Regions from separate parts of the Homo sapiens genome. Here region 2 is linked to region 1. The links come from fine-mapping of genetic effects on gene expression. A gene starts in region 1. The other region holds a variant in brackets. All regions are shown on one strand. Distances are between the middles of the regions.

Region 1 (2,911 bases):
ATTAAAATGTTTCAGTGGGAGGCAAGATATGCAAAGGGGTAACTCCTGGGAGGTGCCCAGTTGTCACTGTAGCCTCTTTAGAATTTTCTCCTAGGACAGTCATTTAGTTTATTAATTCTGAAAGGCCAAACACCAAAATGAGATGTTAATCTGAAAGGAATAACTTCAAGACCTAATAAAGAATGACCACTGAGCAGAGTTTTTATAGATTGCAAATCACTTTCTCTTACATTTGACCTTGCAACATCTTCTAAAACTGGTTTGCCAATCTCTTCTTTTATGGATGAAGAAATGGAGGCTTCTAGGAACCAAGTGACATGCTCAGGATTGCACAGCTCTTCTTAGAAGGACTGGGGATTTCAACTCTGAGTCTTATACCTTTAAATGCCACTGTAACTCTATACTGCCTCCCTGATGCCTCAAAACACTTTTGAAAAGAAGGAACACGTCCTACTGGAGCTAATCAGAGGGAAGAACTAGAAGTACAAATGAGCCACAACGGAGAGTTTTAAAATTCTCTTCCCTAAGTGAGTTCCGGGAAGCTCGGGAAGGGGTGGACACTTGTACAGTTCACTTGTACATCTTCACTCCTGAAATGCTAGGACAAATCTCATTTGAACTCCCAGTCAACTGAGAAATTAAAAGCAGAGAGCAACGACGCTATTTTGTAACTTTGTGCCTTTTAAAATTAACCGAATCTTTCAATTGCTGCTGTAGATTAGAAGTGGCTACTTGGATAAAGGGGAAAGAGCCATTCAACTGATGAATACTATTGTAAAAGTCCAGACTTAGTTCTAGAAAAGGAACGCACAAGAACAATTTCTCCAATAACGTTTTCATTACAGAGCGAAGGAAAGTTCTTCCTCGTTGTTCCAATCCGAGGACAAGCTGATATGTCGCAGCAGCCCAGGGAAGCATGCGAGCTGATAGGAAGTCCTTTTATTTTAAGACAGGCTCGAATGCTAAAACTTTCTTGTGCCAAAACCCTTGACTATTTTATTTTTAAAATAAGCACTTGGCGTGCCCTCGCAGATGTCTGAGCTGAGAGGTCGGGGCGATGGTAGAAGAGCAGTCAGTGTCCATTCTTATTCATATTAAGTAGCCAAGTCTGTACCCTTGAAGCAAGTGGGGAGAGAGGAGGGAGAGGAGCTGCTGACATTGACAATGAATCCAAACAGGAGTTGCACTAGCGGTGTCCACCACGTTGCCTCTCCCCCGCCTGGCCTTCTGGGAGCTGTAGTTTTCGTGGGAGCGGCTCCCCAGGCGAGCTGGGAATGCCCCGCCCGGGCCGAACTACAGATCCCAGGCGGCGCTCGGCCGCCAGCCCCTCCCGCCCGGGTGCGAGTGTAAACTCCCCGCGCTGGGGCGGGCGGCCGCGAGCCGGCGAGCGGGCAGAGCTCGGCACTGCGCCGGGGCGCACGGCTCGGGGGACCCAGGCCCAGCTACCTTCCCTCCGCCCCCGGGCTCTGTTCTCACTTTCCAGCAGTGGAAGGACGGGAAGCGGGAGCCATGCAGTCCGAATCGGGGATCGTGCCGGATTTCGAAGTCGGGGAGGAGTTTCATGAAGAGCCCAAAACCTATTACGAACTCAAAAGTCAACCGCTGAAGAGCAGGTGAGTGGTGACAGCTGGGCAGAGGCGCACCGGGCGGCTGGGGGGCACTGCGTCTGCCACTCTGGGGCGAGGAGAGCGGGTCGCGGGAGCTCTGGGACAAGGACCCAGTGCCCTTGCCCCGGAGCAGAGGGCGAACTGCCCCTCGCAGTTGGGGGCCGCGCCTGCCCGGCCCAAGTGCGCCTTTAGGAAGCTCGGATGGAGCGCACTTCGCGGGGGCGCGGCGGGTCGCCGGGGACGAAGCGTCCAGGCGCGGGGACCCTCGGCCGAGGATGCCAGCTGCTGAGACTGATTGGGGGCTGGGGAGCGACCTGGCGCGATGTGGGGGAGGAGGAGCGCCGGGCCGGGACGCTGTCCCGGTGGGATGGGGGAGAAAGAGTTCTAGTGAACCCCCTTTCTGAAGATCCCAGCGGGTTGAGGGCTCGGAGAGGGAGAGCTTTGGGTGGACTGAGATGCGACATTGGAGGGAAGCAATTAGTTCGCTTGGAGTCACCTCTTGGGAGTCCGGTCTCTGTGGGGAAACTAGCCTCTGGGCTCCTGCAGGTGAGGTTTCTCTGGGCTCCGCCTCTCACCTCCAGACCGCTGCTAGCGGGCGCGGGAGGGGCCAGGGCAGCGGTGGGCGTGTCCCCTTGTTCAAGTTAAACTCTCTGGAAATAGAGTCCCATTCAAATCCAGGCCTTACCTGCAGAGGGGAAATGAGCCTTGGTCTTGGGGGTTACTGGGAGTGTACCCCGCTTGGCAGAGACACGTGTTTAATTCGCTGGGGACTTCAGAAACTTTTTAGACGAGGAGTGAAGACATCCACTGCTCTGATGCCCCATCCCCTCTAGTGCCCACTTCCCTTGAGCCACCCTTTTTGCTGCCTCCATTCCCACTTGTCTGTCGAAATGGATTGGGTGTCTTCCGTTCTCTCTGTCCGGCAGCCACTCTGGACGCCTCGTACTTCTCGTTTACAATGTTTCCTAAAAGGGACATGGTCAATGGAGGCTGGAATAGCTGAGAAGGGTTTATTTCCACCCCTCTAAGCTGTGAGCTAGGATAAGGCTATCATTGGAAGCATCCAGCAGGGCTTCTGCACTCGGCTGTAACTTCCTGCCTTGCCCTTCGCTGTGGATGGGGCCTGGGTGAATGGGCCTGGCTGGCAGAGTGGGAGAGGGTCTTGAAATGAGGGTGAGTGGAGAAGGGCAACTGAACGGGGAGCCAAGTGGTGTAATCTTGGCCTCTGGCGAGCACTGGGCTGGTTCTTTTTCTAGTGGAAAGTGCAGCCAGGTTTATTTCCTTCAGGGCTGTGGCAGGACTCT
Region 2 (2,911 bases), 130 kb after region 1:
GTGCAGTCTCTGCAAGCCTCAGCCAGTACCGGAGCTGGGTAAGGCTAAATAAGCTTCCCGAGGTGCTTGCCTGGCTGCTGGGCTGCCTCCCTGGCCGTGCCTGGGTCCTTGAGTAGCCCTCATTGTGGTGTGAGGCAGCGTTTTTGTCCTGCAGGTACAGTAGGTACTGGATTAAACAGGTCTGCTGTTGCAGACAGAAACCAGGCACCGTTCTAGCACAGAGCTGTGTTTGGATTGGAGTTTCCAGGGCCTTATCAGGAGCCACCCCTAGTGACACAGCCAGTGCCAGAACTAACTTTGACTTTCACTCTTCGCCAAGGGCTTGCAGAACACCTTAAAGGAAAAAAGATGGAGGCGCTTAGAGTTCAGATGTTCATGCCATGCTCCTTTGAAAGCTTGTATCTGTAAGTGAAGTTTTATTCTGGAAATAATCCCGGGACCACTTAAGAGGAGCAGTTTTTTTTCTCTTTAAGGGGGAGGATAAAGGAAGAGAAGGGTTTATTGGGAGTTAAAAATACTGAAGCTGTTACTTCTCACTGGCTTTAATCAGCTTCAGCTGTAACCTCTGGTAGGTGGCTATGACAAGGATAACAACTAATTTGGGGGTGGGGGTGGGGGTGGTAGATAGAAATGCTAACCCAATATCCTTGCCCTCTCCTTTAAAATTGAATACTGGTCTTAAGTTAATAATGACAAAAATACCGCGACTGCTTGAAAAATCTGAGTTAGAGCAGAGCTTGATTTATGATTGCAAGATAGACTGCAGCCCAGCTTTGTTATGAATAAAACAGGATTTTCTTCAGGAAAACTGTGTGTTTAATACAGTAGTAACATTTGTCCAAACTCTCCCATTGTAAACACTGTGAATTTTTGGTTTCTCCCCCCACCTTTTTTTTTTTTTTTTCCTGACTGTGGAATGGTAACAGTTGCATTAATGAACATCTTCTTTGCATTCTTGTATATTGATTTTTTTCTCTTGGAAGGGGAAACAGACATCCAAACATCAGAATTGTCTGCCTGGCATATAAATGTAGAACAAGTTTAAAAAATGGCAATTTCAAAGAAATATTAAAATGGAGAAAAACTAAACAGAGTATAGTTCCCCCCACATCCTTTAACATTTACTTTCACTGTTAGGTGATAAGATTTGAAAACAGTGCTAAAAGCTGTGTCCCCAAGTGAATAGGCATTCAAGCAAATCAACTTATGCAAAAGCTACCTCTGGAGCTTAATCATTATTTACTGAACGTTCCTGGGTCATGGGAGAGGTTCTGATTAAGTCAGAAAGGCATTATGTTCAGCAGCTTGTGAAGGTGTGTTTAAAGACAGCAAGAATAATGGAAAAATACTAGATGTAGCAGATCTATTTTTAGAATTTGATTCTTAAAAAATATAAATATAATTACCATAAGTTTAAGTGTGGGTTAAAGTTCATCATTTTCAGTAGATACATCTTTAAAAGGTCTTATAAAAGGTAGTTTTAAAAATGATTTCTAACTTCTTGAGCTTCTATTTCTGCTGCAGTTTGTTTTAACAGATACTT[T/G]AGATTTTTTTCATTCTTTATGTCGTCATAACAGCTTAATTACTCACCTCTATAAAATGTTAGAGCATTTTCTAAACAAAGTATATATAATTATGTGTTTAAAATGTCACTATGCTAGAAATGTTATAAATTTTTGCCTTATTAATGAGATACTAGCTGGGGAGATGATGTCTACTCTTTGTGATTCATTCTCTACAAAAATATACTCTAACTTACTAATTTTTTAATATTAATAATGGATGGCATGAACAAATGAAACTTGCTATTCTGATTCTACGTAAGAATGGTAGTAATGTCAAACCTGAATTCACAGCCAAATTAATTCTTAATTTTGAATTTCATTCTTTTAGTTAACTAAAATACTTGTCGTAAGAGCATGCTTCCCTTATACACTCTCAGAATGAAATTCTTCACAAACACGTTTGACAAAACTTGTTCACTGAGTTATTGCCCATTAACTTTTCTGTGCGTATTCTTTTAGGAGAGCACACACTGTGAATTAATTGTTTTGTATTTTCCTCTAGGAAAGAAAAGGAACATGATAGCAGAAGGCAGCATTCTAGAATTTTGGCTCCCTAGAAAGTAACTTGTCAGCTTTGACTCGTTTTTAGATATTAAGATGTTCAGCAGATACCATTTCAGGAATTAAAACACAGACTAGAAGAATTCATTGCCTAACTTTTACTCATGTCCACATGGTTTGTGGGAACTATGCTAAGTATTGTGCTTGTATTAACACATTTAATTTTCACAACTGCTCTATGAAGAAGATATGTCTTTCCACCCCCATTTTGCAGCTGAGAAAACTGAGGCTTGGATAGGTGAAAAACCATGCCCAAGTGATACAGCTAAGAAATGACAGGGCTAGGAATTTGACCCAGGGATCCTGGCTCCAGGGCTTAATGCTATTATCTGTTGTGGTCTGTGGATTTTCACTTAAGATACTAAATGAATCAATATTTCTTCCTCTGCTTTTTTATCTAGTGGGTTTCTCCTATCCCTAGATTTCTGAATTACCAAACTGTAACTCATTTGAGCTCTTGAGGGGCCGTGTTTGGTCCTGATGCCACGGTTTTCGTCTACCAGGTGTATTTCCCTGAGTCCAGTTCACCATTGATTATAAGACAGCTATTGGCTGGGCGCGGTGGCTCACGCCTGTAATCCCAGCACTTTGGGAGGACAAGGCAGGTGGATCATGAGGTCAGGAGTTCAAGACCAGCCTGGCCAACATGATGAAATCCCGTCTCTACTAAAAATACAAAAATTAGCCAGGCATGGTGTCCCGGGCCTATAAACCCAGCTACTATGGAGGCTGAGAAAGGAGAATTGCTTGAACCTGGGAGGTGGAGGTTGCAGTAAGCCAAGATC

What was found. PIP is the estimated chance that this variant, and not a neighbour inherited with it, causes the effect.
Region 2: its variant is fine-mapped to the expression of MITF in thyroid (GTEx, PIP above 0.99). The same link has a PIP of 0.9 or more in lung.

The regions. Positions count from the first base shown.
Region 1 is chr3:69,738,089-69,740,999 of GRCh38, forward strand. MITF (melanocyte inducing transcription factor) reads left to right here and starts at 1,376. Exons shown (of 10, transcript NM_001354604.2): 1 at 1,376-1,613. The coding sequence starts at 1,510. RefSeq lists a promoter at 1-1,512 and a silencer at 1,312-1,611.
Region 2 is chr3:69,865,943-69,868,853 of GRCh38, forward strand. All of the region lies in intron 1 of MITF (melanocyte inducing transcription factor), which reads left to right. Among named protein-coding and RNA genes, the nearest start is that of MITF, 130 kb to the left of the region's middle. RefSeq lists a promoter at 1-336 and a cis regulatory region at 150-251. The variant T/G (reference allele first, on the strand shown) is at 1,544.